Linked DNA regions of Homo sapiens: region 1 is linked to region 2. The links come from fine-mapping of genetic effects on gene expression. A gene starts in region 2. The other region holds a variant in brackets. All regions are shown on one strand. Distances are from middle to middle. Region 1 overlaps RRM2B (ribonucleotide reductase regulatory TP53 inducible subunit M2B). Region 2 holds the start of RRM2B (ribonucleotide reductase regulatory TP53 inducible subunit M2B).

What was found. PIP is the estimated chance that this variant, and not a neighbour inherited with it, causes the effect. A credible set is the group of variants that fine-mapping cannot tell apart.
Region 1: its variant is the best candidate, but not a certain one, in a credible set for the expression of RRM2B in blood mononuclear cells (TOPMed, PIP 0.68).

What each region holds. Positions count from the first base shown.
Region 1 is chr8:102,201,717-102,207,099 of GRCh38, reverse strand. It overlaps RRM2B (ribonucleotide reductase regulatory TP53 inducible subunit M2B), which reads left to right. Exons shown (of 9, transcript NM_015713.5): 9 at 1-2,598. Among named protein-coding and RNA genes, the nearest start is that of RRM2B, 35 kb to the left of the region's middle. The variant C/T (reference allele first, on the strand shown) is at 2,642.
Region 2 is chr8:102,236,440-102,241,822 of GRCh38, reverse strand. RRM2B (ribonucleotide reductase regulatory TP53 inducible subunit M2B) reads left to right here and starts at 2,862. Exons shown (of 9, transcript NM_015713.5): 1 at 2,862-2,996. The coding sequence starts at 2,949. It overlaps UBR5-DT (UBR5 divergent transcript), which reads right to left and starts at 2,372. Exons shown (of 3, transcript NR_125415.1): 1 at 2,123-2,372. RefSeq lists a silencer at 2,439-2,868 and enhancers at 2,939-3,038, 4,342-5,383.

The sequences.
Region 1 (5,383 bases), 35 kb after region 2:
TGTTAACATCTCACCCAGCTAGTGTTCCTCAGAACAAAGATTGGAAAAAGCTGGCCGAGAACCATTTATACATAGAGGAAGGGCTTATGGACTGAGAAAGGGAGAACATGGTAGGGATTATTGAATCATTTCAAATTTATACCAGCCTGAATAGTGTACCAGCAATTGACTTAGGCTGTGTTTCTTTATGGTTTTAAAACTCTTGAGCTGTTATAAGAGATAGTTCTTTTAATGTGACTATGCAACATGATAGCCAATGGTGAGGGAAAAGGAGGTTTCTCTAGAAGAGTCTGATGAAAGGCCGGGAACCAAGGTTTTTGAGAAGTCTGCCCCTATTTATTTTTAGTAAGTATCAAGAGGTAGCCTGAGCCTAGTTAGAGTTAGACCTGTCTTTGGATGAAGAAGTCTTAATACTGAAATACTGAATTTTTAATACATTATTATTTGGTATTCTGTATACCCCTTCAAGCAGTTGTTTCCCATTCCCAACAAACTGTACTTTATACAATTCTGGATGCTAAAACTTAGAGATTTTCTCTTTGCATAAATTTTGGCTCCATTCTTTCCATAACAATCTAATCAAAACTGGGAGTTCTCAAGTGAATGCAAAAGGAGCAGGCCATAACTTTATTTGTTAGATACACTGTCAGAAACTTGAGATCTTTTGGCCTATGATAATACCATTAATTTTTGCATTGCTTCAGTTTGCCAAGTGTTTTTACATCATCTCATTTGATCTCAAAACAGCTTGACAGAGCAACTGTTATTGAAATATTACAGATGGAAAGAATGAGGCTCAGGGAAGTTAAATGACTTGGCCAAGATCTGCTCATCGTCACTGTCTGTACAGTATTTTTTTTTAGAGGTTGTAATGTCTCAGATTTAGTCCTTTACCATCTATGTTGATTTGCTTTTGTCTATTTCCTCATTAATTGAATATACTTTAAATATATATATTAAAGTATCAAAATATAGAGAGACATTTGAACTGTATTCAGGTAATATGTTTAAAGATATTTATATATTGCCATACAAAAACTTAACATTTAAAACTGATAATATCTGTAATGACATCAGAATGAAAGAAAAAAAATTGTACAGTGTATATTCCTTTGTTTTGAATCCAAATCTTTTTCATAGGTAATGACAGATGCCTTAATGTGAAGCTTATTTATAATAGCAATAAACCTAACTGGATTTGGATGAAGAAGTCTTAATACTGACATACTGGATTTTTAATGCACTGGTTTGTTATTTGGTATTCTATCTCTTTTTCCAGGCCTCCAGGTTGCACATTTATTTATTATGTTCAATACTTTGGTTCTTAGTTCTTAAAGAATCAAGAAGTTGTGTAATCTTTTAAAAATATTATCTTGCAGATAAAGAAAAAAATTAAGAGTGTGTTTACAACTGTTTTCTCTTTTTTACAGTACATGTATTTAAATCATTGCTATAATAAAGTTAAGTTCATTAGGAATATAAAAACTTGCAGTTCTATGATAGATTGCATTTATTAAAAATGTTTCATTGTATCACATAGAAATATGGCCAGGAAGGACTTGAGAAGACAGTTTGATCCATTGCTTTTAGACAGGACTGGGTTTTGCTGTCCAATTATATACAATAATAGTTTTTCTTACAACTAAGCTGGCCCCAGCCTTGTCTTGATATTAATACATGAAATTTTTATAATTGTCTCATTGTCTCATTTAGAAACATCCATATTTTTCTGCTTTTTCTATTGCCATTTTTTATTTGTGCATGAATTGATTATTGAGAAAATGTAGCAGTTTGCATATTTAAAAATTAATCATTTTGCATTTTACATTTAAATATGCTAACATCACTGTCATAGAATTCCCAAATTTCATTTGTAGATACTGAACTAAGGGCTAATGTCAGGAGCTGATTTTTAATGATAAAGCTGCAGATGGGCTAAATAAAAGCCAAATTAATCCTACAATCAGGTATTATGTTTTTAAACCAAGTTGAGTGAATTGGTAGTGGACTTGGGAAATCTTCCCCAGCAGAATCTGGATGAATGGCACAGAATTGAAATCTCTTTGTTTCCCACCATTTCCCTTTAAGTGCTCTGCTCCTTTGTAAAAAGTTAAAGATTTGAAAGAGAATCTCATATTCCCGAGGCATTAGGAAGAAAGGATTTAATCCCTTCAATTTGGGGCTTAATCTTGTTTAAAAAAATGTAAGTGAAGATGGAAGGCTGGAGAGAATGATTGCTTTTTGTACAGTTAAATAAGGTCACAATATTCTTACATACTTTGTTTTACAACTGTGTTTTCATTTTTTCAAATGTCTGGCCATTTAGCAAAGTTATTTACTATTTACTGTGTACATAGAAAGCTTTATTATGTGTGGTGTATCTAAATTTTTTTTGCTGAAATACATTATGGTCAATCAAGCCAAGCCTGCATGTACAGAATTTGTTTTTTTTTCAAATAAATTAGTTGTTTTCTTATTTTTTTGGCTTAGTATGTTGAAATAAACTATGGTATCTTCATCATTTTGTACATTTCCTTTTTGAGGAAGGTTTCTTTATAAGTGCAAGGGCTACCCTAATAAAGGAATGTATATACTTACTATTTGTGTCTGCAGATAAATACATACTTGTTTGTTCAACTAT[C/T]GCCCCAACCATAGTTTTTACATTAAATGAGACTCCCAGTTCTCTCACCTATCTTTCTCCCAATCCATAAGCCTCTCTTCATGTCTTTGTTTCCAGCTGAGATTCCACAAACATCATATTACTAGCAGTAGCACTCATACCAGTACCCTCAACTCTGTCCCTTATCTGCTTTTTACCATACATAGAAAAATTTAGAAAAATCCCCAAGTCTGTTTTGAATGAAACAACTTAGTTTTTCCAGTATTTGCACCCCAGCAGCCAAATGCTGCTAGAGAAGAAGTCATACAACAAGGCAATTGGATTCTCTACGTATTCATGATTACCCTATCTCAGCACTATCTGGTAATCCTACTACAATTTCCTGGTAAACTTGACCTCCACTGTGCACAATTGCTTTTTCACACCTCCTCTCTCTACCTCTACCCCCGTTTCCCAAAGAGGTGACCATATATTTTACTCTGTGGACTTTGCACACATAGAGATATTCTCAGAGTTAGTAGAAAAATTTGACGATATAAGAGCCCCAAATCTAGAACCTAAGAAGTTAACAGTAGATATGAATTCCTATGTGTGATTTCTGCTGTGGAGTCATTACAATCGGAGTGATTGAAAATATCTGGGACTAACAGCCATTTAATTCTGGGGACTGCTGCTCTCATTCCCAACCATGCGGTTCTCCCAGGGCTGCCAATACGCTAGTATGCACTGAATGTGTCTGGGCGCAGGCTTAAGCATGTGATCCAGACTGGGCCAGGTCCTTACCTAGGGTTTTCCTAATTGAAACTGAAGAAAGAGAAGCACTTTTATTCTAAAGACAAGCTAGAGAGAGTCCTAGTTCTAAACTCCTCTGAGGTCCAACTGTATTCTTTGCATAGTTTCATTTTCAAGGTAACAAATGCCACTTTCGGCTTAAGGTAGGTCAAATTAGGTTTCTTGATTTTCAACCAAAGGGATTCTAGTTAAAACAGAAATTGATCCCTGGAAGAAAAAAAAAGTACATGGAAATAATCGGTATTTATGTGAGTATCGGGCTCAGCAAGAAACAGTTGGCAATTCAAGTTAGGGTAATTCAAAAGAAGTTTGGCAACAGGACAATTTAGAAAGTTATGGACAGGAAACCATAGGAAATAGTGTAGTACATGGGGCTACCAATTAATTACAGGGCTGTTACCACCCCTGCTTAACTCCTCCCTTAAGCTTGAGGGAGCAGTTAAACCAGAGGGAGAGAATTATGAATAAGATGTGATCTTCATTTAGAGCGAGACAGCAAGCCTAAGGCAACTTCGCTGAGAAGGAGCCAGAAAATAAATACTCTCACCTTGTTCCTCTTGCCTCCTATCTCCTTCAGTGGCTCCCCATTAGCCAAAACCAACTAGGAGCAAGAGGGCAAGGGAGCTTGATGCCGTCCTTACAGATCAGCCTCCAGGCGTAGGGTGGAAAATGGATCTGGACGACATATAGAAGATGTGTCACAAAGAGTGTTGGAAATTATTGGTACTTTCCTCAAAGAATTACAAGAAAGAGATGAGCTCAGGAAAGAATTAGTGAGTTTGTAAGAAAAACCAAAAGGAAATCAGACTCAAAAAATTAAGTACCTTGCAGGCTGAAAAAGCAGGCTGATTGTAAACCCCCAAAATAAGAGTTGGGATTGAGAAAAATTCTTTTTTTTTTTTGAGACAGAGTCTCACTCCGTTGCCAGGCTGGAGTGCAGTGGCGCGATCTCGGCTCACTGCAACCTCCACCTCCCGGATTCAAGCAATTCTCCTGCCTCAGCCTCCCGAGTAGCTGGGACTACAGGCGTTCGCCACCATGCCCAGTGAATTTTTGTATTTTTAGTACAGATGGGGTTTCACCATGTTGGTCAGGATGGTCTCTATCTCTTGACCTCATGATCCGCCCAACTCGGCCTCCTAAAGTGCTGGGATAACAGGCGTGAGCCACCGTGCCCAACTGAGAAAAAATCTTGAGATAAGAATTCATCAAGACAATCTTGGCAAAGGTAAGAAGAGGGGTGTGAGAAGGTAATGTAAGCCTCCTGAGAAGGTGGGATGATGGAAAGCACAGGTGGAGGGCTTGACCTCAGACACTTCCTCTATTGTAGCAGGAGGGAAGCTAGGGAAGGTGGATGGATGGTGATGGGGTATGTCTGTAGTTTAGTGAAGAGACATTGTAAGCTTGTTGTTTGTTGACTTAATTTCTCTGTGAAAGAGATGATAAGGTCACCTCCTTGGGAAGTGGGGGTAGGGGCAGCGAGGGGAGGTGTGAAGAAGCAATTGTGGAGGATGGAGAGCCTAGTAGATTCAGTTTGCCTTAGTGTATGGTTTTTCTCTAGCAGCATTTGCTGCTAGGGTACAAATATGTAAAAACTGGATTGTTGCATTCACAATGGGTTTTTTCCTGGATTTTTCTATGTATGGTAAAATGTATGTATGTATGGTAAAATGCAGGTGAGGAACAGAGTTAAGGCTATTGATAGGAATGCTACTACTAGTAATATGATGGACTCCGGAATCTTAGCTGGATAGAGAGACGTGAAGAGAAGAGGTTCATGGATTGGGAGAAAGTAGATGAGTGAGAGAACTTGGGGGTCTTGATTAAGTCTAAGAACTGTGGTGGGGGGAGTAGGTGAACAAGTGCTCTGGAAGGGGAGGAGATTGTGGTCAGAGTGAGGTGCTAGAATTGGTGATTCAGAACATAGTAAGTGTGGGAGAAGGAGGCTGGGGTTTGTTGCTGGGGAAGTGG
Region 2 (5,383 bases):
AAGATCTCTAGGAGTAACAGAATTCTACATCTTCATATAGTCTTTATGGCATATTGTATATGCCATAGTTATAATGCATAAAAGCGTATTGCATTTTTTAACCAAATGGTCAATTTTTTTTTTTTTTTTTTGAGACGGGGTGTTGCTCTTGTTGCCCAGGCTGGAGTGCAGTGGCGCGATCTTGGCTCACCACAACCTCCGTCTCCCGGGTTCAAGTGATTCTCCTGCCTCAGCCTTCCGAGTAGCTGGGATTACAGGCATGCGCCACCGTGCCCGGCTAATTTTGTATTTTTTTAGTAGAGATGGGGTTTCTCCATGTTGGTCAGGCTGGTCTCGAACTCCCGACCTCAGGTGACCCACCCGCCTTGGCCTCCCAAAGTGCTGGGATTACAGGCGTGAGCCACTGCGCCTGGCCCCAATGTTATCTTTTGATCCGCATCAAATGAAGATAGGATGGGCGGAGAAATATGGTTTTGTGAAGACTCCCTTCTCCATTAATGCCATGCTCATTCAGGTCTTATCTTTATATTCCAGTTCGTTATTTTGCTCTGTTTTAACCAAAAAAACCCCACACACAAAACAAAACACCATAACAGTTTTTGCATATCTTCTTCAGTTGAAGAATTGTAATGTATTTTGTTTATGATTGTAAAGCCAAGGACAATTCTTTTTTTTTTTTTGAGACTGAGTTTTGCTCTTGTCATCAAGGCAGGAGTGCAATGGCACAATCTCAGCTCACTGTAACCTCTGCCTCCAGGATTCAAGCTATTCTCCTGCCTCAGCCTCTCAAGTAGCTAGAATTATAGGCATGCGCCAACACGCCCGGCTAATTTTTGTATTTTTAGTAGAGACGGGTTTTGCCATGTTGGTTAGGCTGGTCTCGAACTCCTGGCCTCAGGTGATCCACCCGCCTTGGCCTCCCAAAGTGCTGGGATTACAGGCGTGAGCCACCGTGCCGGCCTAGCCAAGACAATTTTATAACTCTTTGTACGTGGCTATTACATGTAAGGCAATCTTTCAGTAATGACACATTACTCTTAAAAAAAAATCCTAGTTTTCCTTTCAAGTCAAATGTCTTGTTTGAATAAACTTATTTAAAATGAAAATAAATTGATTTAATAAACTGTGTGACTCAGGCATCTCAATTTGATCTGAGCCTTTTGAACTCAGCCATCTGAGTTCCATGACCCTCTGGGATGGCCTGACTCGTACGTGGAAGCTACCATTGCATCAAGGTAATTTCCCACCCCAATAAGTGTTTTACAAGTAATATATTATTAAATTCACACAACAACCTTATGAGGAAGGGATTATTATTCTTATCCTGTAGATGAGAAAGCTGAGTCTCAGAGAGGTTAATTGACCCAAGGTAGCATAGCTAATAAGTGAGGGAACTAGAATTCATGCCCATGATGATATGACTTTTTCACCAAACTCATTCATGTTTGTATCTTGAATACCTAAACGTGATGCCCGACACACAATTATTGTTTGATGACTTTAATTGAATCTGATTATTTGCCACGTGGCCTATAGTAAATTGAGACTCAGTTGCCTAGCAGAATGTATGTGGCTATTATTTAAAGTTCACAGATGAAAAAAATTTCACTCAGCATTTGACCCCTAGTAGTTGCTTTAAGAAAGACTGTCTACCCCTACGCTATGGCAGGTTTGAGAAAGGGCTTTCAGCATTTTCAACGCTTAAAGTGAGATCTTGATCCTATTTACCATCCTTCAGCCAGCCACAAAACAGGTGCATGCTGTTCAGGTCATGGCAAGATCCCGTCAATCTTTCAGCTTCAAACTACTTAAACAAATCTCTCTTCCATTTTATTTTTGTTAGACCAAACTATTTTTTTCAAAATATATTTTTTTCAAAATATTTGCCTGACTTTAGTAACGTGTCCCTCTCCCCCTCACTCACCCGCATTCACACACACACACACACACTTTCCCCCAGACACTTCCCCTTTTCGGTTGTTTACGCACGAAACCAGCCAGCCCTTTCCCTAGCGAAGTGTTTGGCGGTGTAGCTGTCCCGTCCCCGGCGCTTCCCACAGCAACAGCGCGTTCTCTTCGCCTCCCGCAGTCTCTCAGGACAGGCCAGGCTAGCGCAAAGTACCGTGTTCCTGGAACACCACGAGGGCGAGCTCGGGAATCTCGAGCCGGCCTGCAGGACACCTGCCGCACCAAGTGGCTAGAGCCCGGGGAGGGCGAGGCGAGGTGGGACGAGGCGGGGTGGTGAGCGGGCCGGGAAGGCGAGGCCGCGCGGACTCTGGGATAGCTCCTCAGGAGTGGGCGCCCGGAGTGGGCGAGCGGAGGAGGCGGGGCCGATGAGGTGAGGTGGGGCCAGCTGGAGTAGGCTAAGCAGTCCAGAGCAGGGGGCGTCCCTCAGTGGAAAGCCGGGCGACTGGGCGGTGCAACAGAGTAAGGCGGGGCCAGCGGAAGCAGGGAGATTTCCTTAGGCCGCAGGCGGGGAAATGGGGCTGGCCGGGGTAGGCGGAGCCCCGAGGCAGGGGAGGCGTGGCTGGCAGAGGTAGGCGGTGCCCCAAGGCAGGCGGGGCTTGCCGAGACAGGGATAATCCCTTAGGCCACAGGCTGGGAGGCAGGGCAGGCCGAGGCGGGGAGGATCCCTTAGGCCGCAGTAGGGGAGGCGGGTCGGCCGAGGCGGGGAGAAACCCTTAGGCCGCAGGCGGGGAGGCGGGGCTGGCCGAAGTTAGGCGGAGCCCCGAGGCGGGGGAGGCGGGGCCGGGCCGGCGCAGGGAGAGTCACTCAATGGACAGGCGAGAAAGCAGGACCGGCGCGGCGGGGCGGGGCCGGCCGAGTCCCTAGAGCTGGGGGCGGGGCGGACCCAGCGGACCAGCGGACCACCTGGGTGCTGTCGTAGTTGGAGGTGGCCTGAGGAGCTCAGTTCCCTCAGCGCCCGTAGCTTCGGCGGAGTCTGCGCGATGGGCGACCCGGAAAGGCCGGAAGCGGCCGGGCTGGATCAGGATGAGGTAAATGTTGCTGTTGCGTCTTCCCCCTCACCGCAGTCACGCCAGCCCGTTAGATTGCAAGTTGCAGGACCGCTGTAGGAAATGTTATTCGCCGCGGTCAGGACAGGCCTGTCCGCCCGCCCTCGCCGCAGCCTGGCTTCGTCGTTGCGAGCGCCGGGGAGGCCGTCCCCGGGGAGGGCGGAGGAAGGAGCTGACTTTGGGTTTGCGTCCCGCTCGCTGCTCTGCCCCGGGGCCAGCCAAGGACGACGCTTGGAGGCCTCAGGCCGGGGTGAGACTTACCCCTGCGTTTATCCGCCTCACGCTCTCCCACCCTCCTTCCCTGTTTTGGAGCCCTGGCCAGGGAAACCGAGGCAAGGAAAGAGGACTGTGGCGGCTCTGCTGGAGAGGTGCATACCATTTGGGATGGTGACAAGGAGTTGGAGAACGCGTGTGGAAATTGACACAGGTGGCTGGGGTGAAGATGACAGGTAGAAGGGGACACGAAATCCTCATGACCTCCTCCCAGTGAAAAAATCAGGGTAGGAGGCCAGTTTTGCTCAGGCCCGGCTCCTTAACTAACTGAATCTTCGGGGTGTCACTTTCTTCCTTTATACAATGGAAGTGATACTTCAGAGAGAATTAAGTAAAATGCTTTATGCAAAGTGCCACGAAAATTGTAGGTGCTTAATAAGCCCAAGTTGTTCATCCAAGTTGTTTATGCTGATAAAAGTACCTAAAATAAATAAACCAGAATTTGTTAGACTGTAGGATTGTATGGTAGTTTAAACTGTTGCTGTATAATTTTCAAACACTGTCATTTTGCAAATACTTCTAAGCCCTTTGTGGACAAGAGAAATGCTTTTTGTACTACTGGAACCTGTTGCTGTGGTATCTTTGATTTAATACTGTGAAGATTTGGGGGAAACAAACGTTTCCACCCCAAGAGATTCATGCTTGGCCCTACATTTCTTTAGAAAGTTGTAGATTCCAGGTTTGAGATTTTATTTTATTTAACTTGATTTTTGTAAGCATTTAGTAACTAACTGTAAATATCCCTCAAGCTTTTTCTTCCTGTTTTGAAACAAATGCGTTTAGTACCAACTTCCCTACTCAAAGGGGAAAATTCAGACTGCTGTTTATGCTAATGGCACCAGCAGTGATTCAGGCTTAACACCTGGATATTACATTTTATTTATTACTCCTATCTCAATGATACAGACCCGCAAGGACAGACAGAATTTTAGATTCAGAATGAATTTTAGTGGTCCAAAAGTTTTTAACTTGAGATGCTGGGTTGCCTGAAGCACTTTGTTTTTCTAGATGCCAGAGTGCATAATAGGAGACCTGCATCAGAGTCACTTGGAGTATTTTGTAAAAAATGTAAATTGCTGGACCAACACCCCAAACATAGTGAATCAAAATCTCTTGAGATCTGCATTTTTAACAAGTACTTCAGGTGATCCTGGTACACATATTAAAACAAAAACAAAAAACCCCCCACTGTCTTAAAGGGTCCATAGATAGACTAGAAGGGGCTTTATAAATCTCCTGAAGTGATATGTAGATTTTGTATGTGCAGATGTGAATCTTCTGAGAAAGGGGTCCATAGTTATTGTCAATTTCTCAGAGTTAACTATTGCTAATCTAATTCATAGTCTATTGTCAAGGTAAAGTTTAGGCCAGAAAACATTAAATGGCATGCCCAGGACTCAGTAGAGGAGCTAAATTTAAAACCAAGTTCTTGCACCTGGGCGGGTATCCCATTGGTTCCGTCAGACTTTGTGGGAATAGAAGTGAAAATAATACTTACAAGTAGTGTATGACTATGACAACATACAGCTATTTTACAGAAGTAGAAGAGACATAAAGGCAAAGAAACGGAAGTGGTGGAATTGGGGCTGGATAGGAGGTAAGAGCCTGGTATGATGCCAGCCTAGATTGGGGCATCGTAAGTGCTTGCTGGGAAATCTTGACCTAAATTGTTGTCCTGACATGCCCAGGCATGTCTTCCAACTGGGTGACCAGAAATTGAGTCAGTCGGAAACTGGAAGTACCATTCTGGAAAAAACAGCAGAATGTCACTAAGGAATGCCTACTGCTAAACTTTATTTCAAATTCTCATCACTTTACACCTGTGCGGCTATAATAATTTTGTTGTTTCTCTATCTCCTATCTTACCTGCCATTCAATCCTAATTACCATTGCCAAGTTAATCCTTCATTAGACCAGTGCCTCAGTGTCACTGACCCTGTGTCCCCCAAAAAACTCCCAAAAGAGTCTCAATTCCTACCAAAAAGCCTGGCCAACACCTCAGGCTGGTGAAGTCTTGTTGAAGCTGCTTTTTTCATGCTAACTGCCACATCTTAATTCAAGTCCTCATTTCCATCTTTGAAATTGGTTCCTTAGTT